7 linked regions of the Homo sapiens genome follow. The protein of the gene in region 1 interacts with the protein of each later gene in a biochemical or structural test. Each region holds a gene or a part of one and is shown in the gene's direction. Other genes may lie near its edges. The genes, in order: CUL4B, DCAF1, AHR, SIRT1, WDTC1, KPNA4 and DCAF6.

Region 1 (4,345 bases):
GCTTTCTGAAGAATGAGAAATTTATCAATGCCATGAAAGAAGCATTTGAAACGTTCATTAACAAAAGACCAAATAAACCAGCTGAACTTATAGGTATGTTTTCCAGTCCTTTTTCCAGTTGTTTAATGATGTTCTTTGAGTCATAAAATCTCAATCTGAAATTTTTACCAGGTTGTAGTATTACTAATTCCTGATTTGTTTGAGGTTGCTTAGCTGGTATATCAAGTTTGAAGAGTGTTTCTAAAAACCTGGATGTAAGTACTGAAAGCCCACATGTCAAACATAATGTGCTTTCTTTCAAAGACAGTACGTTGGACACTATTTACCTTTATTGATAATAAGCTAATCTGTTTTCCTAGCCTAATGATTTAAAAATGAGGCAGGGTGTTATTTCAAGCTACAAAAAAGGGCAGCATGAAATTACAGTTGTCAGTGAAAAAGAAAAAAGTCCAGGGCAAAAATAAACCTAATAATCTGGGCCCATTTAGCATAAGGATGTGATATACACTACAGTGCTTCTCAGGTTTTTCCACCCAAGTACCCTTAGTGTCAGAGGAGGAGGTAACCTGAGAAGGTCTAGGGTCCTCTGCCAAAAGGATGAAATTTTGTTGCAACCTATCTACTATGTATCCGTAAACATGTAGCAAATTTTACCTTCTACTCTACGATGTATCTGGTTTATTTTAATAGAAAAGTAATGTTTAAGATTGCTTACTATTCCTATAAAATGGATACTCCAGAAGATTCCTCATGTCTTTTCGTGGCTTGGATTACATGATGCCCTCACAGGGCTACATGAGACCTCCCCCACAGGATATCCGTATCCTATTTTCATAAACATCAGTATAGTGGGAAGTACATTTGATCTGGAGTCAGAACACTTGGGTTTGTGTTCAGGCCCTGATGTTATTAGCTCTATGGCACTGAACAAGTCAGTTGATCTTCCTGACTTTGGAGACTTTTAAAAATGCATATAAATTTCTGAAGTATTGAAAAACTCAGTGTATCATACTCCTCTTTGGGTATATATAGTGCCCAGTACCTCGTGTATTCCCCGGTTATTAAACAACAAACTTTTCCCCCATTTTAGCTAAGTATGTAGATTCAAAACTTCGTGCAGGCAACAAAGAAGCTACAGATGAAGAACTTGAGAAAATGTTGGATAAAATTATGATCATATTTAGATTTATCTATGGTAAGTATTTACTAATGTTTTAATATTTTTCTTTTAAAATAGCACTCAACAGAGAAGCTAGCAAGTATATTCAAACTGGAGGGAATATTTATTTGGAAATTACAGATTTAAAATTGTGTTTAATTCATTGGGGGGATACGTGAGGAATGTTACCTGATTGTCCTATGCTTTGGCTCTTCTAGTATTAAGTGCCTTGATTTTTGCTACTTGGCTTAATCTCTTAAATATTGGCACCAAAGCTACCAGTCCACAAAAGCTTTTCTGAAGAAAAGTTAATGCAATCAAGACAGTTACATGCAAAAAAGTTTTACAATAAAGACTTCGAAATGTCTGGCACAAAAATGGATCTCTACTGTTTCTTGCATTTAACAAACTTAAATAAAATGTGTAAAGTAAAATAACTTGGAATAATGGTGTGCTTTATTAAAGCACTTTAAAGCAGTTTTGTCAGTACTTTTTATTGGAATATTATAAATTTTGCATTTCTTTTTACATAGGCAAGGATGTTTTTGAGGCCTTCTATAAGAAAGATTTAGCCAAGCGCCTGTTAGTCGGAAAGAGTGCATCTGTAGATGCTGAAAAATCAATGCTGTCCAAACTTAAACATGGTAGGTTTCTCATTCTTTCTGTTCCTTTTCTTTGATTCCTGAAGGAGAATGTTAGCTTTTTACCCTTTCAATCGATTTCCTCTTTTGTCACTCATGTCTATGTATATATGATGAAAACATAAATTGAGCAAGCTCCTGAGGTTTCCAACTTATTGTACATAATATCCAGAGTTGTTTTTTTTAAGATAAAGCATTGTTCTTGGTTTTATTATTTGTATAAAAATTTCCCATTTATTTTATACCTAAATAGTAGATAAGGTTACTACAGGATTAAAGAGTTTGACTCTGAATTAATGGGGCATACACTTTGGGGTAAGGATTTCTTTTTATTCTTATGAAAGTTACAGATCATACTTCATACTAAAGTTTTGTATTTCGTGTTTCCCACTTTTAAACCTCTTTTGTTTTTACCACTTTAAAATATTATACATGTACAAACATCTTTAATAGAATGCGGAGCTGCTTTCACCAGCAAACTTGAAGGAATGTTTAAAGACATGGAACTTTCTAAAGACATCATGATTCAGTTCAAACAGGTAAAAGTGAGTTAAACTCTTAATTCCTCAAACTTAGTTGTATTTAGTTATCTGCTTGCTATGATTTGTACTAAAGAGGATAAATAGAAACGTGTTTGTTGTAATTCATGGCAACTGAGGTGATATTCACAGTAGAAAAAAAAATTGGTGAAATATAAGTATATTTGACCTACTTTAGGATTTATTTTTGACAAACACCCAGAATAACACAAAAATAAAAATAAAATGTATTGAACTGAAGTCAGTACAAGAAGAGCTATAGTGGGAAAAGGGCTTTCCTCAGCATCTTATCGTTTGGTAATTTGCATGTTCAGAGCTTGCAATGGGGAGAGAGGAGAAGTGATAATGCAGCTGTATAAAAGCCTTTGGGGACATTGGGGATAGAAAGCTAGATCCACAGTTTTGAAGATGTAGGTAGAAAGTAGTTTTGAAATGTTTAAGATCATAGGTGATAATGATGGCAAATTAGATTTTCCTCTTTTGGGTTTTAGTAGTGACTTCTTTACCCCACAGTGTTGCTAAGGTGGGAAGTGGAAGTGAAAGAATTAAGAAAAAATCAGGGTCAGTAAGATTATGGATTCTATAGTAGCTACAGAATAGGGCTTATCTGCTTTGCCCTTTTCCCCTCTTTTTCCTTCCCTACTCCAGGTCACTCCCTGCAGACAGGCAGTGGAGCAAGTGAAAAACTGGAGACTTGGGCTGGCTGGGGGGTGAGGAATGGGGGTTGCTGCAAGGTGTTTAAGCCACATAGGGGTATTCAAAGGTGGGGACTGCAGGTGGTATTGGGGAAAAGAATGGAGAAGAGATCCTATAACGGCCCAGCTGTATGTGAGAAATTATTTAAGTTGATAACGCCTGTAATGAGGTCATGTGATCCTTGTATGCCTTTGTATCAAAATGTTAACCTCTGTACTTGCCTAGTGCATTTTGTGTAGGTTTCATTTAAAGTCTTCTTAATAGTTGCCTTTTATTTTAAGGATGGTCAGTGTTTGCATGTAATTTCATAACAGGGAACTTCTTAAATAGGTTATTATGATATGAAATGTATGCAGTTTTAAGATCTCAGTGTGTGTTTTGATCTTCTTATAGTATATGCAGAATCAGAATGTTCCGGGAAATATTGAGTTAACTGTGAATATCCTGACAATGGGCTATTGGCCGACATATGTGCCTATGGAAGTTCATTTACCACCAGAGGTAAGAGTTACTGTTTAGAACTGAGTTATAGGCATAGAAATCATAGCATTTCCATTTTGCTTGTCATTTAAAAATAGATACTTAGAAAAAAATAGAGACCCAGGGTCTCGCTGTATTGCTCAGGCTGGTCTTGAACTCTTGGGCTCAAGTGATCCCCCCCGCCTCAGCCTTCCGAAGTGCTGGGATTACAGGTGTAAGTCACCAGGCTTGGCATGGATACTTTTAAAAGTGTATGTCAGTAAGCGCACCAACACCAAATACCAACTGCTTTAATGTTTTACTTTTGTACTTAGAAGTCCAGTTAAGCACATAGCTAATAATGCCAAATTTCTGGGTTCAGGGTCAATTTCCCTGGCTCTTCTTCCATCTTCCCAGGTTATACCCCTCACTCTACCTAGCTATTAAGAATTCTTGCACATATTTCACCCATAGGTGGGATTGCTAAATGATGGGTCCTTGATTAAATCTATCCTGACTCCTGGTAAACTGTCTAGTCCAGGACTGAAGCCCATAAAAGGGATTAAGGCTAGACAGATAGATATTGAGAATCCTCCATGGAGATGATTATGAAGGCCCAGGGAGTAGATTTCTCTCAAAGAGGAAGAAAAAACAGCAGAGGCAGAACTTTAGAAAAGGCTCACATTTGGCAGATGGTAGAAAGAGGAACCTGTGAAGGAAACCAATGCAGAAGCAACAGTGAAATAAAGGAAGCAGCATAGTGCAGAGGCACAAAAGCTGCTGCAGGTGAATGTTTCAAAAGAGGGGATGATTAAATGTTCAGAGAGAGCAAAAGGTATAAATCCTAATAA
Region 2 (4,823 bases), on another chromosome or scaffold:
GCCCCTTTGCTGCGTGTTTCAAAGGCACATGTGCCCTGTTTGTCATTTCTCTAAGGAATTCCCATTCATTATTTTGTATCTGCTTGGTTAAGGTGATAGAAGGAATTTTCTTTGTAATCTAAGTGTATGATTGTTTCCTCTTTGGGAGTCCAGGATCTTTAGGTGAGTGTGATTGTGCAAGAGGCTGGGGGTCACCTGTGTTTCAGTTGGTTGCAGGAATATGTCCTGAAGATCTGTCACTTCAGTGCTCCTGTTGTTTGTCCATAGGCATTCCTTCACAGAAGATCACTATGTTGAGTTCAGTAAGCACTCCCAGGATCGGGTCATCGGCACAAAAGGAGACATTGCCCACGTAAGTACTTAAGAACCACTGTTTTCAAGCTGATCATACCCATTTGTTCATACTGAAATCTTCTTGATAGAATGTGAGGACCTAAGTCCTTTGGGCAACTAGAAATCAGTGATATTCCTTCTAGTTAGAATCTAAAAGTATGATAATATAGTTCTGAGCTGTATGGGAAAAATGTATAAGGGCTAAATGTGACATTGAGAAAGATGTCATTAGCACCACAGATATTTTTGAATTCTTAGTAAGTTTTAGATTAGAAATGAAACCCCTGCCTTTATGGACCCTCATTGGGGAGACAATAAAGAAGCAAATATACGGTAAATTTAGGTGGTAAGTGTTTCAGAGAAAATGAAAGCAGGGTAAGAGGTAGGAAATGCTTGGTGGTGGTGTGGGGGACTTCTCTTTTATCTAGGGTAGACAGCATCACTGATGGGGTAATGTTTAAGCAGAGCCTTGAAGGAAACGCGAGATTCAGGAAGATACCTGGAGGAACAGCGTAAGGCACAGGAAATGGCAAGGGAAAAGCCCTTGCTTGGGAGGTGGGAGGAGAGCTGAGGTCAGTGAGGGGCCTGTATCTGGTAGCATCTTGTAGGTGGTAGTTAGGGCCTTTAGCTTTTTTTTTGAGTGAGATGAAGACACTGGTGGGTGAGTAGAGGATACATGAGTGGATGTAAAGTTCCTGAAGTGTGACTCTGGTTTTTGTGAGAGAAGCAAGAGCAGCCTTCCAGGTCAGAGGGTGTTGTACCACCTGACACATGAGAGGAGCTGTGGGTTTGGGCCTGGGTAGGCATGGTAGAGGCTATGAGAAATGGAGGACCTTGGCCCTGGGATTTTGGACACATGAAATTTGAGATTCTCTTAGACATTCAAGTAGAGAATGGGGATTGAATACAAAAGTTGGGAGCTGGCCAGACTTAGTGGCTTCTGCCTGTAATCCCAGCACTTTGGGAGGCTGAGGTGGGAGGCCAGGAGTTCGAGACCAGCCTGGGCAACATAGAGAGACTCCCCCCATCTCTACAAAAAATAAACAAAATTGGCTGAGCTTGGTGGGCTTGGGACCTATAGTCCCAGCTACTCAGGAAGCTGAGACGGGAGGGTTGCTTGAGCCCATGAGTTGGAGGCTGCTGTGAGCTATGATTATGTCACTGTACTCCAGCCTGAGTAACCAAGTGAGACCCTGTCTCTGAAAATAAAAACAACAAAAAATTGGGAGTTCAAGAGAGAGGTGTGGGTTGGGAAATATAAATATGGGACTTGTCCACATATTGACAGTATTTATTTATTTATTTATTTTTGAGACAGGGTCTTGTTCTGTCACCCAGGCTGCAGTGCAGTGGCACGATCACAGCTCACCACAGCCTTGACTGCCTGGACTCAAGCAATCCTCTTACCTCAGCCTCCTGAGTAGCTGGGACTACAGGCGAGCACCATCACACCTGGCTAATTTTTTTGTATTTTTGTAGAGACGGCATTTCCCCAACGTTGCCCAGGCTGGTCTCGAACTCCTGGGCTCAAGTGATCCACTTTTCTTGGTGTCCCAAAATGTTGGCATTGCAGGCATGAGTCACTGTCCCCAGCTGATAGTATTTACAGCCATGAACTTATATGAGATCATCAAGGGGACTAGAGAAGAGTTGTGGGTATAGAACCCTGGCATGTGTTTAGGAGTTGCCAAATGAGGAACTTGGGAAGGAAATCAAATATAATGGCCAGTAAGGCAGAATGGAACCCCGAGAAAAAGAGGTGCCTGGCCGGGTGCGGTGGCTCACGCCTGTAATCCCAGCACTTTGGGAGGCAGTATTCTGTGGTAATCATTGATCCATGTGGAGAATTTGTGTGTTAATTTTAGAAACTGCTTTGCACATTTTCTCTTTAATTTGTCAGTGGATGGATTGGTCTGATTTTTCTCTTCCCATCCCTTCTTCTCTAAAGATTTATGATATTCAGACTGGCAACAAGCTGTTGACTCTGTTTAACCCAGATCTTGCCAACAACTACAAGAGGAACTGTGCCACCTTTAATCCTACAGATGATCTTGTCTTAAATGATGGCGTCCTCTGGGATGTCCGCTCTGCACAGGCCATCCACAAGTTTGACAAGTTCAATATGAACATCAGTGGTGTTTTCCATCCAAATGGACTGGAGGTGATCATTAATACTGAGATTGTATCCTTTATACTCATGTCTTACCTTCCATTTGTTGTCTGGTTTGTGGTGCAGAAATAATTTGTTCTATCTTTATACCAATACCTGGTTAAAGTGTCCACACTGGTAATAATATGGTGCCTGTCCTTTGGTTTGAAATGTTAGTGAAATCTCCAAAGCACTGTTGCCAATGTTAGTAATTACTGACAACTTTCACTAGCATGTTTTCTATGTATTTGGTAAGAGTGACCAGTTTCCTACCTCCCAGTTCTCCAAGAATTGAATTAGCTTTTATCTGTCTTCAGAAGGATTTTACTTTTGCTCTGTAAAAAATCAGTTGCCACATAAGAGGAAAATGAAGTACTACTGTTGGGAGGAAAAGAGCTCATAAAGCATTCCTGTATATGAGGATACCCTAGGATATTTTCAGAGACATCATTCAATAATATGCATTCTACATGTATTTGTTTTACCTTGATCTCATTGACTTTTAAAGTATCAATACCTGGCAGGAGGAAAAAAAGTGATATTTTAGAATTTCCTCCCATGAGATTAGATAAGTTTTGTGTAAAATAGTTTTCCTTGACCATTCCCCTCCTAGTGGGACCTTCGAACTTTTCATCTTTTGCATACTGTTCCCGCTCTGGATCAGTGTCGCGTGGTGTTCAATCACACGGGAACAGTGATGTATGGAGGTAATAAACCTTATCCTTCATTATTCTCTTTCCTTTTGCTCTACCCCTTCACTTAATTTGATACTTCTTTTTGGAACCATCTCTCACTTGTGAATTGGAAAGCATTTGAGAGTTGTAACATAAAAGATAAAAAATTGATAGTATGAATGGTGACAAAAGATATGAAAATAATGTTGGTTTAGGGTGAAAGGCAGCTTACTTTGAAGATAACAAGGAAATCTTGTATGGAAAGAAATTTCATGCAGTATTTTCCAGTGTATCATTATGAACTTAAGAGCTTTTGCATTTGTCCTCTTGTGTTGTTATAAGCCTTGTAAGTACAGTAACACTTCTTGGAGGTAGATGAGAGGCTGAGGATATTATTTGTCACAATAGGTGGGATATGCAAGGAAGATGCTCTGAGAGGAGCTAACTAGATGCAGAGTAGATTTCTGTACAAGGGAATTTGTATGTAAACCTATATGCAAGTAGATTGTTTTGATTGGCCATTAACATTTTCTGCACTTGTGAAGAGGGGATGTTTGTGATTCCTAATAGTGTTTCCTCCCCCACTCCCCCTCAAGCTATGTTGCAGGCAGATGATGAAGATGACTTAATGGAAGAGAGGATGAAAAGCCCCTTTGGGTCATCCTTCCGAACATTTAATGCAACTGACTACAAACCTATAGGTAAGCAGAAAGGGACAGACATTGAACATTTTGTCGTGTTTTGGTGTTCCTTATTTAAGATCCTTCATTTTCTGGAGGCCTGTAATTTTTTATTGAAAAACAGAGAAGTTATGGAAATACTTTTGAGCAATCATCCTGAATTCCTTTAGAGGAAAAGCAGGTTTTAGGGTCACAGCAATAGTCCAATCCCAATCTTCTCACATTCTATTTTCCAGCAACCATTGATGTGAAACGGAACATCTTTGACCTGTGTACAGACACCAAAGACTGCTATCTTGCTGTCATTGAGGTAAAGGGAGCTTGCAGAGGCCCTGCTCTTTTGTTCTGATGTTTAGGATAATTTTCAAGTTGTACTACAGACATTTTGTCTGATATAAGATGTAAAGTCAATACATTCCTGAAGGTAGATTATTGATAACCTATTCATTTGATGGGGCTTGGGAGATGTACAGTACAAAGAGAAATAGTAAGAAAATCCCAATATAAGACAGCTTAGAGGATCCTGTCTCCTTTTTTTCTGGACTCACACTGTCATCCCTTTCTCAGAGGAATCTGGATCTCTCACCAGAGCAAGACTGGTTTGTTCCAAGGGTGATGGTTCCTCACCAAGTCTTTTCATTCTGTTTTTCTTCCCCTTTATGTGTCCTAGGTATAACATTTTCATAGTCAGCTCAAGAATTTCGGGTATCAGAAGCTTTAATAATTACAGGGTCAAGGTCATGGGCACCAGTCAGGGCTGAGGCGTGGATGTGGACCTTCTGAAAAGTAACTGCTCCTTATGGACTGGATGTTCTATTTCAGAATCAAGGCAGCATGGATGCCCTGAACATGGACACAGTATGCAGGCTGTATGAAGTGGGCAGGCAGCGTCTGGCAGAGGATGAGGATGAAGAGGAGGACCAGGTCAGTGGTCTTTGAGATTTCTTTCTGCTGAACAGTGCTTAATAGAGGTTATGCTCTGCTTTT
Region 3 (4,319 bases), on another chromosome or scaffold:
ATTTTAAAAATACATGTTAATGTTATTTACTGGCTTAAGATACTTGGAAGATCTATTCCAATAAGTTGCATCACCATTTTTGTTTTCAGTTTCAGAATGGAGTTTTAAATGAAACATATCCAGCTGAATTAAATAACATAAATAACACTCAGACTACCACACATCTTCAGCCACTTCATCATCCGTCAGAAGCCAGACCTTTTCCTGATTTGACATCCAGTGGATTCCTGTAATTCCAAGCCCAATTTTGACCCTGGTTTTTGGATTAAATTAGTTTGTGAAGGATTATGGAAAAATAAAACTGTCACTGTTGGACGTCAGCAAGTTCACATGGAGGCATTGATGCATGCTATTCACAATTATTCCAAACCAAATTTTAATTTTTGCTTTTAGAAAAGGGAGTTTAAAAATGGTATCAAAATTACATATACTACAGTCAAGATAGAAAGGGTGCTGCCACGGAGTGGTGAGGTACCGTCTACATTTCACATTATTCTGGGCACCACAAAATATACAAAACTTTATCAGGGAAACTAAGATTCTTTTAAATTAGAAAATATTCTCTATTTGAATTATTTCTGTCACAGTAAAAATAAAATACTTTGAGTTTTGAGCTACTGGATTCTTATTAGTTCCCCAAATACAAAGTTAGAGAACTAAACTAGTTTTTCCTATCATGTTAACCTCTGCTTTTATCTCAGATGTTAAAATAAATGGTTTGGTGCTTTTTATAAAAAGATAATCTCAGTGCTTTCCTCCTTCACTGTTTCATCTAAGTGCCTCACATTTTTTTCTACCTATAACACTCTAGGATGTATATTTTATATAAAGTATTCTTTTTCTTTTTTAAATTAATATCTTTCTGCACACAAATATTATTTGTGTTTCCTAAATCCAACCATTTTCATTAATTCAGGCATATTTTAACTCCACTGCTTACCTACTTTCTTCAGGTAAAGGGCAAATAATGATCGAAAAAATAATTATTTATTACATAATTTAGTTGTTTCTAGACTATAAATGTTGCTATGTGCCTTATGTTGAAAAAATTTAAAAGTAAAATGTCTTTCCAAATTATTTCTTAATTATTATAAAAATATTAAGACAATAGCACTTAAATTCCTCAACAGTGTTTTCAGAAGAAATAAATATACCACTCTTTACCTTTATTGATATCTCCATGATGATAGTTGAATGTTGCAATGTGAAAAATCTGCTGTTAACTGCAACCTTGTTTATTAAATTGCAAGAAGCTTTATTTCTAGCTTTTTAATTAAGCAAAGCACCCATTTCAATGTGTATAAATTGTCTTTAAAAACTGTTTTAGACCTATAATCCTTGATAATATATTGTGTTGACTTTATAAATTTCGCTTCTTAGAACAGTGGAAACTATGTGTTTTTCTCATATTTGAGGAGTGTTAAGATTGCAGATAGCAAGGTTTGGTGCAAAGTATTGTAATGAGTGAATTGAATGGTGCATTGTATAGATATAATGAACAAAATTATTTGTAAGATATTTGCAGTTTTTCATTTTAAAAAGTCCATACCTTATATATGCACTTAATTTGTTGGGGCTTTACATACTTTATCAATGTGTCTTTCTAAGAAATCAAGTAATGAATCCAACTGCTTAAAGTTGGTATTAATAAAAAGACAACCACATAGTTCGTTTACCTTCAAACTTTAGGTTTTTTTAATGATATACTGATCTTCATTACCAATAGGCAAATTAATCACCCTACCAACTTTACTGTCCTAACATGGTTTAAAAGAAAAAATGACACCATCTTTTATTCTTTTTTTTTTTTTTTTTTGAGAGAGAGTCTTACTCTGCCGCCCAAACTGGAGTGCAGTGGCACAATCTTGGCTCACTGCAACCTCTACCTCCTGGGTTCAAGTGATTCTCTTGCCTCAGCCTCCCGAGTTGCTGGGATTACAGGCATGTGCCACCATGCCCAGCTAATTTTTGTATTTTTAGTAGAAACGGGTTTCACCATGTTGGCCAGACTGGTCTCAAACTCCTGACCTCAGGTGAGCCTCCCACCTTGGCCTCCCAAAGTGCTGGGATTACAGGCGTGAGCCACTGCATTCAGCTCTTCTTTTCTTTAGATATGAGAGCTGAAGAGCTTAGACACATTTTGCATGTATTATTTGAAAATCTGATGGAATCCCAAACTGAGATGTATTAAAATACAATTTTTGGCCGGGTGCAGTGGCTCACGCCTGTAATCCCAGCACTTGGGGAGGGCGAGGAGGGTGGATCACGAGGTCAAGAGATGGAGACCATCCTGACCAACATGGTGAAACCCTGTCTCTACTAAAAATACAGAAATTAGCTGGGCATGGTGGCGTGAGCCTGTAGTCCTAGCTACTCAGGAGGCTGAGGCAGGAGAATAGCCTGAACCTGGGAATCGGAGGTTGCAGAGCCAAGATCGCCCCACTGCACTCCAGCCTGGCAATAGACCGAGACTCCGTCTCCAAAAAAAAAAAAAATACAATTTTTATTTCTTTTACTTTTTTTAGTAAGTTAATGTATATAAAAATGGCTTCGGACAAAATATCTCTGAGTTCTGTGTATTTTCAGTCAAAACTTTAAACCTGTAGAATCAATTTAAGTGTTGGAAAAAATTTGTCTGAAACATTTCATAATTTGTTTCCAGCATGAGGTATCTAAGGATTTAGACCAGAGGTCTAGATTAATACTCTATTTTTACATTTAAACCTTTTATTATAAGTCTTACATAAACCATTTTTGTTACTCTCTTCCACATGTTACTGGATAAATTGTTTAGTGGAAAATAGGCTTTTTAATCATGAATATGATGACAATCAGTTATACAGTTATAAAATTAAAAGTTTGAAAAGCAATATTGTATATTTTTATCTATATAAAATAACTAAAATGTATCTAAGAATAATAAAATCACGTTAAACCAAATACACGTTTGTCTGTATTGTTAAGTGCCAAACAAAGGATACTTAGTGCACTGCTACATTGTGGGATTTATTTCTAGATGATGTGCACATCTAAGGATATGGATGTGTCTAATTTAGTCTTTTCCTGTACCAGGTTTTTCTTACAATACCTGAAGACTTACCAGTATTCTAGTGTATTATGAAGCTTTCAACATTACTATGCACAAACTAGTGTTTTTCGATGTTACTAAATTTTAGGTAAATGCTTTCATGGCTTTTTTCTTCAAAATGTTACTGCTTACATATATCATGCATAGATTTTTGCTTAAAGTATGATTTATAATATCCTCATTATCAAAGTTGTATACAATAATATATAATAAAATAACAAATATGAATAATATGTTTTAATGTAAATTCTTTCTGGTCCACGTAAAGGAAATTATTTATTCTGTAGTATTATAACTATGTTAGATGAGGGCAATCTACAATACTTAGGGATATGTTAAGTCAGTAATTCATAAACTTCTTATACAATTTTGCCCCCCAATGTCTGACCTTTATCTGGATATAAAAAACACTCTCAGTAGCTTCATAAATTAAAATGCTTCTGAAATGAACTTTTTTAAAGCCCTGTGTTATCAGTGTAGTAGTGTGTCTTAGATTAAAATCCAAAATCCTATTTTAATATTTTAAGAATATTTCTGAAGAAATTCGAAATAACCCTTGTTAGCTGTATTTTGTGCTTAGTTTAGAAAAACCATTGCCCAAACTTAGTATTTCTGTTTAATAAGTATAAATGATACAGAAGCCTTTGGCCTTAAATTCATAACTGTTGAACATTCATGGAAAACCCTGCAATTAGAATTGATTGAAGAAGAATTCCTGAGAAAATGTTTTCATTCTTGTGACAGTTATTTTTCTATTAGTTTTATATTTGTTCTTTACAATTAGGCATTTTTCTCAACTAGCATATCATAAGTTAGCATCATACTTAATTCTGAACATTTTAGACTAATCCTGAGTCTTTAAGAATTACATAAAATATTTAGTTTTAACTATTTGATCTGAAAAAAATCAAGTAAAAATCCTGATAACCTGAGTGCATCTCTGCTTGCGCTTAGGTGATTTCTGTCACCATGAATGACTCTAGCTTGTCCAATTTCACCAGCTCTACCAAACACCGACCCAGGGATGTTGGCCACTGACAGGGCTGGATGACATCTCTCATTTCTTTCACTGTCTGCAGATGACCTTGCTTCCGTTTTTACTAATAAAATCAAGGATATCATCCTAAGTTTGTACCTTCACCTCAGCAATTCCTCTATCCTTGGACTTACCTCCAGTATGTGAGGAGGAGAGTTTCCTGAACTCCAGGGTTAGCCCCCGTCCTCTCTCGTT
Region 4 (4,823 bases), on another chromosome or scaffold:
AAATTGGCCTGACTTAAAAATTCCTTATCTGTGTTAAAGATGGAATATGAGGTATGTTTAATTTTACTCAGTTATTTGGGAGTTTTATTTCTGAAATAAGGGTAGGGTTGTATTTTTATTTCTTAAAAGAAGTTTCAGACTAAAATTTTCTTTCTCAACTCTTACCTAATTATATGGTAAGAGAGCTAGCTAGTTCCTATAAAGGTAGAAGATTTAATTTTACAAATTATGCCATGCACATTTTAGGTGTCTGTTTCATGTGGAATACCTGACTTCAGGTCAAGGGATGGTATTTATGCTCGCCTTGCTGTAGACTTCCCAGATCTTCCAGATCCTCAAGCGATGTTTGATATTGAATATTTCAGAAAAGATCCAAGACCATTCTTCAAGTTTGCAAAGGTACTATGAACTCTTCTGGTTGTTTCTTTGGCCTTCTCTCATGAAAAAGTATTTTGTTCACATACAGCCACCTTAAGGTTATCGTTCATTGTTTAGTAAAGTGAATGCTGCTACTGTGGCGGAGTAAGATCACTCATTATGGCTAGAATTCCTTTATTCCTAGAGGAGGACTATTATCTACTTCATTTTAGGAGTGAGCTTATTTTCAAAGAGATAGTTCATATTTTTAAAATTTGCACTGCAGCGATGGTCGTTATTCTGCCTGGGCTTTTTTAAGAGGTTTGCACACCATATAAAAGTAACATAACTTGTGATTTTTAATATTTTATTAGAGATTGTAAAGGTTATAACATCACTTTGGTGTTTCGTAGTCAAGTTTTAACATAAGGATGTGCCTGAAAAATCATTTGTAATTAGAGAATGGGAAGATTCTTGGGTTGCATTTTTGTCAGCAAATTGCAGAGGATCATTATTCTGCTCTAGAGTTGCACCGTCCAGTTCAGAAGCCACTAGCCACATGTGGCTGTTGAGTACTTGAAATGTATTGATATGTGCAATAAGTGTAGAAGACATATTGGATTTTAGAGATCCAGTATGGAAAATACAAAGTATTTCATTAGTTTTATTCATCAAATATTAAACAAATATTGGTTTTTATATGGAAAAAATACTTAAAATTAATTTTGAATTCTTTTGAAATACTTTTGATATTGGGTTAAATAAAATGTATTTTGGGCTGTGCGTGTTGCCTCATGCCTGTAATTTCAGCACTTTGGGAGGCCAAGGTGGGAGGATCAGTTGAGCCCAGGAGTTTGAGACCAGCCTGAGCAACATAATGAGACTCCATCTCTACAAAATAAATAATAAAATTTGCTGAGCATGGTGGTGTGCACCTGTAGACCCATCCACTCAGTAGTCTGAGGTGGGAAGATCCCTTGAGCTCAGGAGCTCAAGACTGAGTGAACCATGATCTGCCATTGCACTCCACCCTGGGCAACAGAGCAAGAGTGTTTCCAAAATATATGTATGTTTTTTGAAGTTTACTTTTTTTTTTTTTCTTTTTTTGAGAAGTAGTCTTCCTTTGTCCCCCAGGCTGGAGTGCAATGGCATGATCTTGGCTCATAGCAACCTCTGCCTCCCAGGTTCAAGTGATTCTCCTGCCTCAGCATCCTGAGTAGCTGGGATTACAGGCGCCCGCTACCATGCCCAGCTAATTTCTGTATTTTTAGTAGAGACAGGGTTTCACCAGGTTGGCCAGGCTGGTGTTGAACTCCTGACTTCAGGTGATCCACCCTCCTCGGCCTCCCAAGGCTCTGGGATTATAGGCGTGAGCCACCGCGCCTGGCCAGTTTTCACCTTAATGTGGTTACTAAACAATTTAAAGTTATATGTATGTCTCACATTATGTACCTATTGTACAGCTCTGCTTTAGCATAGAAAGTTTAATAATGCATTACACCATTCTCAAGAGATTGAGTCATTAGAAAACTGTTTTCTTTCCTGTATTTCAGTCTTTTGGAAAGAAATTACAAAATTTGTTATTGTTAAACTTGGAGGTATATATATTTGAAAGAGTCATTTTATTTTATTTTACTTTAAGTGCCGGGATACATGTGCAGAATGCGCAGATTTGTTAACATAGGTATACATGTGCCATGGTGGTTTGCTGCATCTATCAACCTGTCATCTAGGTTGTAAGCCCCACATTCATTAGGTATTTGTCCTAATGCTTTTCCACCCCTTGCCCCCCACCTCCTGACAGGCCTCTGTGTGTGGTGTTCCCCACCCTGTGTCCATGTGTTCTTATTGTTCAACTCTCACTTATGAGTGAGGACATGTGGTGTTTGGTTTTCTGTTCTTGTGTTAGTTTGCTGAGGATGATGGCTTCCAGCGAAGGAGTCTTGTATTAGTGGCTTTTTCCCCACCTAATCGTTAGAAGTTGTGAATAGGGACTTCTTTAATGAATCCAGAAGTTAATGAACCTAGCTTTTTTTTTTTTTTTTTTGGAGACGGAGTCTGGCTCTGTTTCCCAGGCTGGAGTGTAGTGGTGTGATCTCTGCTCACCATACAACCTCCACTTCCCGAGTTCAAGAGATTCTCCTGCCTCAGCCTTCCGAGTTGTTGGGACTACAGGCGCGTGCTGCCATGCCTGGCTAATTTTTGTATTTTTGGTAGAGACGGGGATTCACTATGTTGGCCAGGTTGGTCTTGAACTCCTGACCTTGTGGTCCGCCCATCTCAGCCTCCCAAAGTGCTGGGATTACAGGTGCGAGGCACCGCGCCCCGCGCCCTGCCGATGAACCTAAATTTTAACTAAACAGTGGCCTTATCTACTTTCAGACCATGTGGTATATTTACATGACTACAGGAGAAGCTTTGCTAATTCAGAATAAATTATGTTACTTAAATTGGCGACTGTCTTTAAAAAAAAAGTGATTTTTTGGATGCAGTAGCTCGTGCCTATAATCCCAGTGCTTTGGGAAGCTGAGATAGGAAGATCTCTTGAACTCCGGAGTTTGAGACCAGCCTGCGCAACACAGTGAGACCCTAATCACTACACCCCTCCACCCCATGTAACTTTTGTTTTATCCAGGTTGTGGTATATTAAATGGGCATTAGTGTAAAGTGGGAAAATTATATTAATTCTTGAATATGATTACTAAACTGAATTTGAAAAGTTTTCAGGCTATCAAGAGAATTTTTAACTTAAAACTTATATAATTTGAACTTTTTACTTCATATATCCGTAATGATGATGGTCATCTATATCTAGCTTTTAGAGCAGACAACTGGTTCATACCTGGATTAAATAAATAATGTAAAGTTATTTTTTGTTAATTATGGATTAGTGAAGATTTACTGTTTTAACCTACTCCTGCTAGTGGCACTACTGCATGGTTTTGAAGACCAGTGAAGTATGACTTAAAGGTTTCTTGAATTGGAGCTAGGACACTGGCATTTATAAAATCTCCACGTAGCGCAGACATTGACACTATCAGAAGACCAGCAAGTAACTAGAAGTTACTTTGATCTTAAATCAACTACAAAAAACTTGACTCACTAGTTATGGAGAATACATTTTTTATTGTTAAACTGAAAAAAAATTCAGTCACTTATAAGGTGTAGCCTCTTCTAATCCTGTTTATATAAATTTATTTATTATTATTATTTTTTGAGATGGAGTCTTGCTCTGTTGCCAGGCTGTAGTGCATTGGCGCGATCTCGGCTCACTGCATCCTCCACCTCCCGGGTTCAAGCAATTCTCTTGCCTCAGCCTCCCAAGTAGCTGGGACTACAGGCACGTGCCATCACGATCAGCACTTTTAGTAGAGACGGGGTTTCACCATGTTGGCAAGGACGTGTCTCGTCGTGACCTCGTGATCCGCCCGTTTCAGCCTCCCAAAGTGTTGGGATTACAGGTGTGAGCCACAATGTCCAGCTGATAAATTTAATTTTGCTTTTCTGAGTTTTCATTTATGGTAATGGTTAAATCAGCTAGGCTTTACAGTTGTTACTCACATATAATTCTTTGTCCATCCTTTAATTCTCACATTGGGAACTGACTAAAAAAAGAAAGCTTCCAGTCTGGGCACAGTGGCTCACACCTGTAATCCCAGCACTTTGGGAGGCCGAGGTGGGTGGATCACCTGAGGTCAGGAGTTCAAGACCAGCCTGGCCAACACAGCAATACCCCGTCTCTAATAAAAAATACAAAAATCAGCCAGGCTTGGGTGGCGGGCGCCTGTCGTCCCAGCTACGCAGGAGGCTGAGACGGGGAGAATTGCTTGAAGCCAGGAGGTGGAGGTTGCAGTGAGCCGAAAGCGCTTAAGGAGAAATAAGTAAGGACAAAGAGTGCAGGATAGTATCCTGACACGGAGGATGGGGAGGGTATGTAAATATTGTCGATATTTTACTGAATTTCTAAATATTACAAGAATAGAATATTCATAGGATAACCTAAGCTTTTCTGTGAGTCAGTGTACTAGGCAGAAAGTTCACTAAAGTGGTTTATGATTTTTGCTACTTATGAGAAAACATTAAAAATGAAGCCATGAAAAGGAAATATTGGTGAAATTTAGATACTTCAGAAGGAAAGAGAGACTTTCTTTTTTTTTTGGAAAGAATTTCTATACCATCTATTATATCATTGATTGTATGTGATTATTGAGAATTAACTTGTTTTTTTTTTTTTTGTTTTTTTTTTTTGAGACAGTTTTGCTCTTGTCACCCAGGCTGGAGTGCCGTGGTGAGATCTCGGCTCACTACAACCTTCACCTCCCGAGTTCAAGCAATTCTGCTGCCTCAGTCTACTGAGTAGCTGGGATTACAGGTGCCCATCACCACGCCCAGCTAATTTTTCTAATTTTAGTAGAGACGGGATTTCACCATGTTGGTCAGGCTGGTCTCGAACTCCTGACCTCAGG
Region 5 (4,823 bases), on another chromosome or scaffold:
TGTCTCCTCCTTAGCTCTGTGACCTAGGGCCAATCATGTATCCTCTCAGAGCTATAGTTTCACCTATAAAATGAGGCTTATTGTAGTACCTACTTTTTAGTGGGTTTTTGAGGACTAAATGATGAAATATATCCTTTTTACTAGACCTCACTGATTGCCCTCAAGAGCCAGGGCTTGGATGTAAAGGAATACCACTTAGTTGGCTTCTTCTGGGTAAATTCAGGCCTATGTGTAACTCTGAGAGTTCTAGGGCCCATTCTTTGAGCTATTAAGTAATAGCTGCTGACTCCTTGAAGGGCTTTGTGGCATTGAAGACTAATACCTTAAAAACTTTTAAGCCTGGGCTGGGCGCAGTGGCTCATGCCTGTAATCCCAGAACTTTGGGAGGCTGAGGTGGGCGGATCACAAGGTCAGGAGTTTGAGACCAGCCTGGCCAAGGTGGTGAAACCCTGTCTCTACTAAAAATACAAAAATTAGCCTGGCGTGGTGGCGGGTGTCTGTAGTCCCAGCTACTCAGGAGGCTGCGGCAGGAGAATCGCATGAACTCAGAAGGTGGAGGTTGCAGTGAGTTGAGATCGCAACACTGTACTCCAGCCTGGGTGACAGTGAGACTCCATCTCAAAAAAAAAAAACAAAAAAACTTTAAGCCTGAATAAGGGGAGGATGCAGTCAAAAGGCCAGAGTGTATAGGAGGCAGTGTCAGAGGCCCTGTGCAAAGAAAATTCTCAGCTACTACTGCAGAGCCAGATTTGAGGGTCACCGTTGGCATTTTTGTATTTATTATCTTCTTTTAGGATACAAGGTCACAACTGCTAGAGCTGTAACAGAGCTCAGTGCCAAGAATAATGACCCTTAATCCTCCGTATAGCCATCTGGGGAGGTATTAACCCCATTTTCTTGGAGATGGGGTGGAGAACAGGATCAGACCTTGCCCAGGGAGCTCTCCAGAGGCTGTTGAGGGCAGTGTTTGGATCAGGACTTTTGTACAATTTTGTCCTTATTCATGACCCCCCAAATTCTATAAAACTGCTTATCCTTGAACCTCTTAGGGGGCCTTCCTGAGAATGGGAGCTAGGCATTCATGGTCAGGGAGCTTCATAGTTGAGGCCTGAGTGTTTGGGTGCTGATGGCCTACCTGGTTCCCTTTTGAGTTACACATCTGGATATAACACTACTGTCACTGAGTTAGAAAGGAAACATTTCTAACTTGAATGGTTTAGTTTTCCTTGACCTTGCAGCTAGTAGTAGAGTTACAGGATGAAACTCCAGAGCCTTCTCTACAAGAGATATTTTGAATTGTGGCAGGATTTGTCAGGATGCAAGTTAAAGACTGCAGATGCTTTTAAATAGTGAGAGAGTATAGCATTATCAAAATATGCTCCCTTTTCTCTGTTTCCTTCCACTATCTTAAGGTAATTGTGAGGCCTAAGAGCAGACAGGAAAATTAGCTATGATCACTGGAAAACAAAGTTCTGAAAACATCCAGAAAAAATTTTCACAAAGCTCAAACAAGTGGCTGGGTGTGATGTCTCACACTGTTTTTTTTTGTTTTTTTTTTTTTGAGAGTCTCGCTGTGTCACCCAAGATGGAGTGCAGTGGTGCAATCTTGGCTCACTGCAGCCTCAGGCTCCTGGGTTCAAGCGATTCTCTTGCCTCAGCCTCCTGAGTAGCTAGGATTACAGGCGTGTGCCATCACGCCTGGCTAATTTTTGTATTTTTAGTAGAGACGGGGTTTTACCATGTTGGCCAGGCTGGTCTCCAACTCCTGACCTCCAGTGATCCTCCTGCCTTGGCCTCCCAAAGTGTTGGGATTACGGGGATGAGCCACCGTGCCTGGCCAGATGGTTCACACTTGTAACCCTAGCACTTTGGGAGGGTGAGATGGGAGGATTGTTTGAGGCCTGGACTTCAAGAACAGCCTGGGCAAAATGATGAGACCCCCATCTCTACAAAAAATAAAAATAAAAGTAGCCAGGCATGGTGATTTGCACCTGTAATCCTAGCTACTCAAGAGGCTGAGGCAGGAGGATCCCTTAAGCCTAGGAGTTCAAAGTTGCAGTAAACTGTGATAGTGCTACATTCCATTCCAGCCTGGGGAACAGAGCTAGACCCTGTCTCTTTTTTTTTTGAGACGGAGACGGAGTTTCGCTCCTGTCGCCCAGGCTGGAGTGCAATGGTGCAATCTCGGCTCACTGCAACCTCTGCCTCCCGGGTTCAAGTGATTCTCCTGCCTCAGCCTCCCGAGTAGCTGGGATAACGGGTATGCACCACCACGCCTGGCTAATTTTTTGTATTTAGTAGAGACAGGGTTTCACCATGTTGGTCAGGCTGGCCTCAAACTCCTGACCTCAGGTGATTCACCCACCTCGGCCTCCCAAAGTGCTGGGATTACAGGCGTGAGCCACCGCACCCAGGCGACCCTGTCTCTTAAAAGCTCAAACAGCAATACGGAGCCCACTGGGCAGGGGAGAAGACATCAAGGTGAGTTTTTATCTAAAGCTTCCCAGAAAGTAAAGCATTGCTTAGAAGCAGCTCTCTTCTGCAGAGAAAACCTCAAGCAGTCCTACATGGGATTATTTAAGCCAGGAGCCTCAAAGATGGCTAAGAAGTTTCCTGAAGATGCTTTGGTGATGAGTCTATCCTACCAGCGAAAGCTTTCCCAGAAACTGTCCTTGTACCAACTTAGTCCATGACCTTGAAATGGCACTCTTTAAATTTGTGTTTGAGATCAGCAGAGTCAAGGCAGCTTAACCCTAAGGAATGGTAAGAGACAAAGTTTCAGCAGCTTCCTGAAATTGTATCAATACTGATATTACAGGTGTGAGCCGCTGCTCCCTGGCCAGTAATTTTTTTTTTTTTTTTTTTTTTTTTTGAGACAATGTCTCACTCTGTCACCCAGGCTGAAGTGCAGTGGCATGATCTCGATCTTGGCTCACTGCAACCTCTGCCTCCTGAGTTCAAGTGATTCTCCTGCCTCAGCCTCCCCAGCAGCTGGGATTACAGGCGCCTGCCACCATGTCCGGCTAATTTTTGTATTTTTAATAGAGACAGGGTTTCACCACATTGGCCAGGCTGGTCTGGAACTCCTGACCTCAAGTGATCTGCCCGCCTTGGCCTCCCAAAGTGCTGGATTACAGGTGTGAGCCACCACACCCGGCCCAGTAATTATTATTTAGTGGCCAATGGCCTGGCCCCTGGAGTCAGACTGTATAGGTTGACTCTCTGTCTAAGAACTGTGTAGCTTTGGCAACTTCACTTTTCTGTGCCTCAGATCCTGCATCTGTAAGATGAGGATAACAATAGCACCTGTCTCATAGGATTATTATGAGGAGTCTGTGAGATGACACTTGTAAACTGTTAGAATGTTCAATAAATATTATTTAATAGGATCAGTGTCAGGCATTTTACATGCAAGCGCTTCTGTTCCTCCTCACCCTGCAGAGGTAGGTATTATCAGATTAGGAAACTAAGGTTTAGAAGTGTCAAGTCAGGGTCTGGCATGGTGACTCATGCCTATAATCCCAACACTTTGGGAGGCTGAGGTGGGCAGATCGCTTGAGCCCAGGAGTTCGAGACCAGCCTGGGCAGCATGGTGAAACCCCATCTCTACAAAAAAAAAAAAAAAAAATGCAAAAATTAGCCAGGTGTGTGTGGGTGGTGCATGCCCGTGGTCCCAACTACTCGGGAGGCTGATGAGATGGGAGGATCTCTTGGGCCCGGGAGGCAGAGGTTGCAGTGAGCTGAGATCATGCTACCACACTCCAGCCTGGGTGACAGAGCCAGACCCTGTCTCAAAACAAATAAAAATTTTTTTAAAAAAATTAAAAAGATGAAGAGACGTAAGAGGTATAGAAAAGAAAAAAAAATTTAAAAGAAATGTCAAGTCAGACAGAAAATAGGTGTCAGAACTGGGATTTGAACCTAAGATCTGTTAGGTCCACAGCTACACTCTTCATTTTATTATGCTCTTTCTTTCTTTTGTTTTGTTTTGTTTTTGAGACAGCGCCTCACTTTGTCACACGGGCTGGAGTGCAGAGGCACAATCATAGCTCAATATAGCCTCAAACTCCTGGGCTCAAGCAATTCTCCCTCCTCCCTCCTGCCTCAGCCTTCCTAGTAGCTAGGACTACAGGAGTGTGCCACCATGCCTGGCTAATTTTTAAAAAACTTTTTTATAGAGACAGGATCTTACTCTGTTGCCCAGACTGCTCTCGACCTCCCGGCCTTCAAGTGATCCTCCTGCCTCGGTCTCCCAAAGCACTGAGATTACAGGCATGAGCTACCACACCTGGCCTTATGTTATTTCCAATGACCTTTATGCATTGAAAGTGAAGTTGAGTCCTTGCTTCGTTGCATCTTTCATCTTTTTTGTAGGATTGCTCCAATAGAACCACTATAAATAGAGTGAAAGGAAACTTGCATACATCTTTGCATAATTCAGAATGTTGAAAGGGGGTCAGTTGTCACCCTGGTTGGGGGCACGTCTCTGCTATGGGAGGTAGCATGTCCAGAGGAAAGAGAATACAGATGTTTTAGGTTCCATCTCTGGTCTGCTGCTAACCAGTAGTGTCTACTTAAAATCTCAGCATAGTGTCATCGGAAGGGGTTTTGTAGCTTATCTCAGAGTCCACCTCTCATTTTACAAACGGCAGAATAGACTGAGAGAGCAAAATGCCTCACTCAGGGTCATACAGCCAGTTAAAGGCAGAGGCTGGCTTGGAGCACAAGACCCTAGATCTCCCAGTCCAGTGCTTCTTCCTCAGTACCATGTAGTATTCTGCTTCACTTCTCCCTTGTTAAATGGGGATTATTATCGTACATGA
Region 6 (3,500 bases), on another chromosome or scaffold:
TATGCTGGATGGATAGATAACTTTTGAAACAAAATATTTAATGCATTTTAAATGGTAGAAGGAAGAATGGTTAGATATTTGGCCCAATGTAAAAATCCCTGCTGTTTAAAAATACTTGTTTTTTTTTGTAGTCCTTCTTTACAGTTTGAAGCTGCATGGGCTTTGACAAACATTGCATCTGGAACTTCTGAACAAACTCAAGCAGTAGTTCAGTCCAGTAAGTTGGTTATTAATAAACATAATTGTGATTTTTTTTAAAAGAAGTCGGTAAAAAATAGTGATCTTCCCAAAAGACTATGGCAATTTAAATTATAAAATAATAGCTACTACGTAGTTATTGAAATAGGTCAACTTAAGTATGTTACTTTAATCTTCTTATTCTGGTGACTGATGTTTTTTGTATTTCCAAAAATTCACTTGATTCCTTTCTAAATATGAGAACATTTCCTAATTATAGTAGCAGATTACATTATTATTGTTACACTTTATTTATAGGACATCAGTAGAAATAAAGGAGTTTTTCCTGTTGCCACATTGCCTCTCAGCCTCTCTTTTTTTGTTTTTGTTTTTTTGTTGTTGTTGTTTTTCTTTCTCAGACAAGATCTTACTCTTTTGGCCAGGCTGGAATACAATGGCACAATCTCAGCTCACTGTAGCCTCGGCCTCCCAGGCTCAAGAGACCCTTCCGCATCAGTCCACCAAGTAGCTGGGACTACAGGCATGTGCCACTGTGCCTAGCTAATTTTTGTAATATTTTTGTGTTTTTTGTAGAGACAGGGTTTCACCATGTTGCCCAGGCTGGTCTCTAACTCTGGGCTCAAGTGATCAACCTGCTTTGGCCTCCCAGTGTGCTGGGATTATAGGCATGAGCCACCACACCGGGCCTCAGCCTCTCTTAATGAGATTTTTCTCTTTTTTTTTTTTTTTTTTTTTTTTTGAGATGGAGTCTCACTCTGTCGCCCAGGCTGGAGTGCAGTGATGCGATCTCGGCTCACTGCAAGCTCCACCTCCCGGGTTCATGCCATTCTCCTGCTTCCGTCTCCCAAGTACCTGGGGCTACAGGCGCCCACCACCACGCCCGGCTAGTTTTTTGTATTTTTAGTAGAGACGGGGTTTCACTGTGTTAGCCAGGATGGTCTCGGTCTCGATCTCCTGACCTCATGATCCGCCTGCCTCGGCCTCCCAAAGTGCTGGGATTACAGGTGTGAGCCACCACGCCCGGCCATATCATATATTTTAAAGAAATCTTCTATAAAGTAGTCCTAGTTGAAAGAATGGCTCGAATTTTTTTTTCATTGTTATTATAATAGGATTGCTTTTTTTTGTTTCAAGAAATGTAAGTGGAAAATTATTGGAAGTAAGAACCCGAGTGTATTGTCTTCATGAATAGTATTTGATTGTTCTACCAAACAAAGAAATTAATAATTTTAAAGAAGATACTTTTAAAATCCTCTTTAAATATGTAAGCAGCATACTTCTCTGAGCTTATTAAAAATGTAAGCACTAATTTGTACATTTTGAAGGGGAACAAAGATGTTATCCAAATAATCATTTTACTGTAGACACTTATGTTGTAATATTACTTAGAAAAGATAATTACCTCACATCCTATTAAAACTGGTTTGGTTTTGGGTTCAGGTGGTTTTTATTGTGGTTTTTTGGTTTTGTATAGCTGACTCTTAGGAAAATTTTTGGTTTCATAACAATGTTTTATTCCCTCTCACACTTTTTCCTTTCTGTTATGTATGCTCTCTAAAGATTAGAAAGAGGCTTAGAATTTTTTTGACCCTGCTAGTCTGCTTTAATATACCAAAAATAATAAATAAATAAATAAATGAGGTTGGGCATGGTGGCTCATGCCAGTAATTCTAGCACTTAGGGAGGCTGAGGCAGGCAGATTACTGGAGTCCAGGAGCTAGAGACCAGCCTGGGCAACATGGTAAAACCCCATCTCTACAAAATGCAGGAAAAAAAAATTAGCCGGGCTTGGTGGCATGCACCTATAGTCCCAACAACCCAGGAGGCTGAGGTAGGAGGATCACTTAAGCCAGGGGAGGTCAAGGCTGCAGTGACCTGTGGTGACACCACTGAACTCCAGTCTGGGCAGCAGAGTAAGGCACTATCTCAAAAACAAACCCATAAGTGAATTACCTTTTATGATATTACAAGCATGATTGAGCTACATATACTTAAATAGTGCTTTTTAAAGTAATATCAGAAGGAAAGAAGAAGAATCATTTGTTCAGTGCAGTATTTTGTTCAGATACAGACCTATCTCTGTTTCCCATCCTGTTGAGTAACAGAATCACTTTCTGATTCGGAAGATCCCACATGGCCCAGGAATCACTGGCCTGTCTTAAAGACCCACATGTTGTTAACATAAATTTGTGTTCAAAAGTTACTTCAGGCCGGGTGCAGTGGCTCATGCCTGTAATCCCAGCACTTTGGGAGGCCAAGGCAGGCAGATCACTTGAGGTCATGAGTTTGAGACCAGCCTGGCCAATACGGTGAAACCCTGTCGCTACTAAAAATACAAAAATTAGCCAGGCATGGTGGCTCACACCTGCAGTCCTAGCTACTTGGGAGGGTGAGGCAGGAGAATCACTGAAGCTTGGGAGGCAGAGGTTGCAGTGAGCCAAGATTCCACCGCTTCCCTCCAGCCTGGATGACAGAGTGAGACTCCGTCTCAAAAAAACAAAAAAAAAGTTACTTCAATAATGTACTTTTTTTTTTCAAACTACAGATAATCTATAAGGAATTAATCTTGAAATTAATTCCAGGTTTAATTGTTAATGAAATTTCACAAGCCTAATTTAACACTTGTCTGGATAACTCATTTTGATACTGAGTAAATAGTCACTGGTCAAAATTCTTCCAATGATGCTATTCCAATAAAATTCATTTAATGAGGTTATATTTTAAGTATATTTTTATAGGTTCCCTTTTTTTTGAGGTCTCAGCAAAAAAATAAAGATTGATTTTTGGTTTATGGTATCTTCAACCTTAAGTATTGTTATTTTTTCTTCCATCAGATGCTGTGCCACTTTTCCTGAGGCTTCTCCATTCACCCCATCAGAATGTCTGTGAGCAAGCAGTGTGGGCATTGGGAAATATCATAGGTTTGTATAAAACTTGTAATACTAGTCTAAAAATTGTTATCATATACTAAGTAATAAAAATAGCTACTAGTAATCCAAAAGAGAAAACAGTTTGCCTTCAGTACTAGTTTTTGTGAAATAGCTTACAGAAATTTGAACTGTATTACTGTAAAAGCATAAAGTCATAGTAAATAGAATTTTTGTTGCTTAAGATACCATTTTTTTGGTATATAGTTAGCTCTTAATTATTTGAATAATTATGCAAGATGTATACAATTTAGACCTTCTGTCTCATGCTAGGATCCATTTTTTCTTCCCCTAACCCCCATGTTGATCAGTGGGGTCCCTTTTTATTTCTCAGCTTTCTCCATCAAAGAAAGTAACAAGAAAAAAGACAAAACT
Region 7 (4,823 bases), on another chromosome or scaffold:
GAATACCGAAGCCATTTATAGGAACATAGAAAACATTTAATATATGAAAGTAAATACAATTATATATATATGTGTGTGTGTGTATATATATATAAAAGATGTGTATACTGAGGTAATTAGAAAGTGATTAGAGTAACAATTACATTAATTTTCCTTTGAGATTTGCATTATTTTCTAGCTCTTTACCAAAAATTTGTAAATGGTGTAAATATTTCCTCTGACTTTTATCTAAATCGGTTATTATAATTCTTAACTTTTTTGGCACCATCCTGATTTAATCTTGAACAACTGTAAAAAAGTATACTTTTAATATTTCTGCACCTTTCTAAGGGCTCTTCATCATTGACACTCCTGCCAGTTTATCTTACTTCTCAATTTAGCTGACTTTTATTCTAAAGAGAGAAAGTTTAAGAGATTTTGCTTCTTAAGAACATGAAAAGAATCACTTACCAGCTTGTAATTAGTCCTATGATTTTGGAGAGTTTCTGTTTCCCAAGAGACTAAGGGTTGTGAAGCTCTGTTGTAACAATCATACCATTTGGTTCCTAGAGTCCAAGGATACATTGCACACATGGATGAAATGCCCACCTAAAAGGATGTATGTCTTAAAGTTCCCTCCATGCTGCCATTTGCAAAGCCCAGTCAATATTAGTTTAGCTGGGGTAGAGAAGTGGTCCTAAAATTAAATATTATACAAGTGTATACTTAATTTGATCTGTACTTTATATGAAGAACTATATAGTGGACCTCATCAGTTTTTGTTCCAAATTTAATTTTTAAAAGGAAACTTTAAAAGGCTTTATAGCTAAGTCATTTCTGACAAATTTACTGAAAATATCAGAACAGTTCCTTGCAATACAGAGTAATGATTTTTAAAAAAATATTTACATTCTTATAATTTGGTTAAATAAATGACCCAGGTTTTCACTTTTGGGCTGAGATCAAGCATGAGAAGGAAATGTCTTAGAAAATGAAGACCTTAACAACTAACATAGATATTTTTAAATGGAATGCTCTTCTCATTAACTACAGCAAGTCTATGTAAATGTAACTGGGAGTCTATAGCAGAGCAGCAGACTTACTCCTAAAGAGCCATATAGTAAATATTTTGGCTTTGTTGGCCAGGAGACAAAATGGAGACCATTATGGTAGGTACTTATATGACCATTTAAAATATTAACATTTAAAAATGTAAAAACTATTCTTAGCCTAAGGTTCATTTCAAAAATCGGCATTTGGCGGAGATCTAGCCCAAGAGCCATAGCTTGCAAATACCTGCTCTATAGTAATCAGTGTTATAGAGAGAAATCAAACTATAGTCTGTGGTAAAATGCCTCTACTGGCAAAAATCCAGACTTTGAAACAATGAAATAATATGAATCTCCACATATTTGGGTTCCCTTTAACTTTGCGTAAGGCAAGAACATGGAACAGTAAATGGGAAATAAATTGAAAAAAGACAGAAAGAAATGTTTGTTCTCTAATCATGGTGTTTAAAAAAATAAAATTAGTCCTAATGTCAAAAATAAGTCTGACTTAGGAAAAAAGCAAAACAAAGCAAAAAAATAGTATGTGTATCTTTTAGTGATTTTATATACTGTATTTATTTCATTTTGTTTTATTTTTTTGAGACAGGGTCTTGCCCTGTTGCCCAGGCTGGAGTGCAGTGGTATGATCATAGCTCACTGCAACCTCATACTCCTGGGCTCAAGCGATCTTCCTCCCTCAGTCTCCCAAGTAGCTGGGATTACAGGTGCATGTTGCTGCACTCTGCTAATTTGTTGTTGTTGTTGTTGTTGTTTTTTTTTTTTTTTTTTTTTAGAAGAGACAGTCTCACTATGTTGACCAGGCTGGTCTTGAACTCCTGGCCTCAAGCCTCAGCCTCCCAAAGTGCTGGGGGACTATAGGCGTGAGCCACCGCGCCTGGCCATATACTGGGTTAAGAAACGTAAATATATGCCCTTGGAATGAAAAGAGTGTGGTTGAGATCTCTGTTTAGATAATCTGCATATAATTTTTTTTTTTTTTTTTTTTTTTTTTGGAGACGGAGTCTCGCTCCCTCACCCAGGCTGGAGTGCAGTGGGGCAATCTTGGCTCACTGCAAGCTCTGCCTCCCAGGTTCACGCCATTCTCCTGCCTCAGCCTCCCAAGTAGCTGGGACTACAGGCGCCTGCCACCACGCCCAGCTAATTTTTTGTATTTTTAGTAGATACGGGGTTTCACCGTGTTAGCCAGGATGATCTCGATCTCCTGACCTCGTGATCCGCCTGCCTCAGCCTCCCAAAGTGCTGGGATTACCGGCATGAGCCACCGCACCCAGGCTGTATAATTTTTTTTTTTTTTTACAATGCCAAATCTGTTGTAAGTGATTTGACGGCCTGATTGGTAGCTCTTACTGTTTCTAAACTCAAGAGAAAACCTAAATTACTCTCTGAAAAAAAAAAACAAGCATCTAAGAAAGCTTCCTGAATAAGTCCTCACATAGTCTTGAATAGTTTTTAATTATAGCCTCAGTTAGGATGATCTAACAATTTTTTCCCTAAAGAGTGATTTATCCTATATTGCCCTTTAATAACTTTTAAAGTGTTATTTTCATAGAAATTTGGTTCCATATACCTACTCTGGACCATGGAGCATAGCCCTCACTTTTAAAGCCAAAATTCCTTGTACTGTAAATTTGGCAGCATTTATTCAGTCATCATTGTAACCATGATTTCCTTATTTCTCATTATTGCAGTTTACTCTTTATTAAAGAAAATTGCAGAGAGAAAAGATGTACTCAAAGAGAAAGAACTGGACTCCTAGGGAGTTAAAAGCCCTGTTATTCTTTGCTCATTTGTTATATAGTCTTGTGGTTAGGCCAAGTGAATTAGCTTAGGGCTTAATTATTTATTTTCCAAAGAGCTCCTCAGCTTTGAGGAGCATGTACGTGTTCCAGAGGATGGTATTCATTATAAGCCAGTGCAGTTTCCCATACTGTGACAGGATTGGGTTCTGATTTATTTAAAAGATAAAAGGGATTAAGTGCAATGTCTTCCTTCTATTCTAGCTTCAATGAGTGTTTCTGTTTCCTTAATTTCTTCATATACATTTAGTTGACTGACATATTCCTTGCTTAATGCCCGAAGTCACAAAGGGAAACAAAAGTTTTTTTTTAAATTGAGATGATTGATGATAAAAAGGGTGTCCTTAATGCTTTAAATATTTGGTTCTTTGAAGTCTTTGTAAGTGATTTCAGTTATTGTGTTCCCTTCACTAGATTTAATATCAGAGGAACAACAATAGGTGATAGAATAATGAGGTAATTCAGTATGTTCCTTCATAATTTTTTTTTTATGATGGATTTGCCAGGTCTTCTTTTGCCACAGCTAACCACCTTTCCTATTAACAGTTAATACTCCCTTTGGACTTACTGAATTCTAAGTGCTAAGCATTGTAAAGCAGGTCGCTTTCCACAAACTATATTTAGCTGCATGCACTGCATGGGGATAGAATGAAAAGAAATTTCCTGTGTGCAGACTGATGTTCACTTCAAATATGTCATATGGCAAAGTAACTATAATCTGAAATGATGTACTTTAAGTATCAGTTACTCTTTTTGGATATTTTGTTGAAGAATGCAATTTATGTTTTTTAAATTTGATTGGGATAACAATTACCAACTTTTTGTTATTCGTATATGCTCCTTTTCCTTGAGCTCAATAACTAAAAATGTACTTGAATCTAAATCTGTGTATAGGTTTCTGATTTTTGCAAGAAAGTTGTTTCCTTATAAATAGTTTAGAAATAGTGTCACATATCAAGATGATATATAAGCCTCAAGCACTTCTCTATTTGGGACATATTTTTGAGTAGATCTTTAAAGTGAACCTCAATGACATCAGTCACCTACTGAAAACCTGTTTTGCTGACAAAATCAACCTTGTACTTAACTCTAGAGGCATATATCTGTTATTTACCATCAGTTTCTAAAACAGTTGAACATGAAACATATAGCAACAATCAGAAATGTAAAGTTTGTAGAGTTCCTAATGAAAAATACAGAAGTCATGAAATAAGCCAAAAAATATAATAGATGTATGGAAATTTCTGGTTATGGTTCATTGTCAGGAGGATTCTCATCTACAAGTCTCAAATTTGTTTTTGCTTCTCAAACTTGTTTTGTTTTGTGCTGTTGTTTCTAGCCTGTTTTAACATTAAGGTATATTTGAAATAACTTTTTCAAATTATTACTAGTTATCACTTTCTTTTTTTTTTTTTTTCCCCAAGATGTAGCCTTGCTCTGTTGCCCAGGCTGTAGTGCAGTGGCGCAGTCCCAGCCCACTACAACCTCTGCCTCCAGAGTTAAAGTGATTTTCCCGCCTCAGCCTCCTGAGTATCTGGGATTACAGGCGCCCACCCACCAGGCCCAGTTAATTTTTGTGTTTTTAGTAGAGACAGGGTTGGTCACCATGTTGGCCAGGCTGGTCTCAAACTACTGACATCAAGTGATCTGCCCATGTTGGCCTCCCAGAGTGCTGGGATTACAGGCTTGAGCCACCGCATCTGGCCTAGTTATCACTTTCTGATTAATTGTATGACAATAAAATGGAATTTGCTTCAGAGTTTTTTGATATCCTGATTTATACTTTTTATCACAAGTACGCAAAGCTGGTTTCTGGTTTTATAATGAAAATTGCAACTATAAAGTACCATGATGCTTTAATTGAGTTTTAGAAAAGCTGAAACACTAAAGTAGAGATTATCATGAACTGATAAACAATGGTAAAGCAGAAAATGTAACAGTTACCTCCCTGTAGAGTGAATGAGGTGAGACTCATTCT

Evidence for each region.
Region 2: the proteins of CUL4B (region 1) and DCAF1 form a complex in vitro, tested with the Homo sapiens proteins (one study listed by BioGRID).
Region 3: the proteins of CUL4B (region 1) and AHR form a complex in vitro, tested with the Homo sapiens proteins (one study listed by BioGRID).
Region 4: the proteins of CUL4B (region 1) and SIRT1 form a complex in vitro, tested with the Homo sapiens proteins (one study listed by BioGRID).
Region 5: the proteins of CUL4B (region 1) and WDTC1 form a complex in vitro, tested with the Homo sapiens proteins (one study listed by BioGRID).
Region 6: the proteins of CUL4B (region 1) and KPNA4 form a complex in vitro, tested with the Homo sapiens proteins (one study listed by BioGRID).
Region 7: the proteins of CUL4B (region 1) and DCAF6 form a complex in vitro, tested with the Homo sapiens proteins (one study listed by BioGRID).

The regions. Positions count from the first base shown.
Region 1 is NC_000023.11:120,536,118-120,540,462, reverse strand, and holds part of CUL4B (cullin-4B), read left to right. Parts: coding exon 1-93; intron 94-1,090; coding exon 1,091-1,195; intron 1,196-1,692; coding exon 1,693-1,803; intron 1,804-2,253; coding exon 2,254-2,339; intron 2,340-3,428; coding exon 3,429-3,536; intron 3,537-4,345.
Region 2 is NC_000003.12:51,412,316-51,417,138, reverse strand, and holds part of DCAF1 (DDB1- and CUL4-associated factor 1), read left to right. Parts: intron 1-267; coding exon 268-352; intron 353-2,281; coding exon 2,282-2,515; intron 2,516-3,095; coding exon 3,096-3,189; intron 3,190-3,752; coding exon 3,753-3,857; intron 3,858-4,072; coding exon 4,073-4,146; intron 4,147-4,658; coding exon 4,659-4,760; intron 4,761-4,823. UniProt on the Homo sapiens protein: Acts both as a substrate recognition component of E3 ubiquitin-protein ligase complexes and as an atypical serine/threonine-protein kinase, playing key roles in various processes such as cell cycle, telomerase regulation and histone modification.
Region 3 is NC_000007.14:17,342,832-17,347,150, forward strand, and holds the end of AHR (aryl hydrocarbon receptor), read left to right. Parts: intron 1-89; coding exon 90-233; 3' UTR 234-3,316; downstream 3,317-4,319. UniProt on the Homo sapiens protein: Ligand-activated transcription factor that enables cells to adapt to changing conditions by sensing compounds from the environment, diet, microbiome and cellular metabolism, and which plays important roles in development, immunity and cancer.
Region 4 is NC_000010.11:67,891,156-67,895,978, forward strand, and holds part of SIRT1 (NAD-dependent protein deacetylase sirtuin-1), read left to right. Parts: intron 1-246; coding exon 247-399; intron 400-4,823. UniProt on the Homo sapiens protein: NAD-dependent protein deacetylase that links transcriptional regulation directly to intracellular energetics and participates in the coordination of several separated cellular functions such as cell cycle, response to DNA damage, metabolism, apoptosis and autophagy.
Region 5 is NC_000001.11:27,240,353-27,245,175, forward strand, and holds part of WDTC1 (WD and tetratricopeptide repeats protein 1), read left to right. Parts: intron 1-4,823. UniProt on the Homo sapiens protein: May function as a substrate receptor for CUL4-DDB1 E3 ubiquitin-protein ligase complex.
Region 6 is NC_000003.12:160,527,572-160,531,071, reverse strand, and holds part of KPNA4 (importin subunit alpha-3), read left to right. Parts: intron 1-131; coding exon 132-217; intron 218-3,032; coding exon 3,033-3,119; intron 3,120-3,500. UniProt on the Homo sapiens protein: Functions in nuclear protein import as an adapter protein for nuclear receptor KPNB1. Binds specifically and directly to substrates containing either a simple or bipartite NLS motif.
Region 7 is NC_000001.11:168,047,633-168,052,455, forward strand, and holds part of DCAF6 (DDB1- and CUL4-associated factor 6), read left to right. Parts: intron 1-3,259; coding exon 3,260-3,301; intron 3,302-4,823. UniProt on the Homo sapiens protein: Ligand-dependent coactivator of nuclear receptors. Enhance transcriptional activity of the nuclear receptors NR3C1 and AR. May function as a substrate receptor for CUL4-DDB1 E3 ubiquitin-protein ligase complex.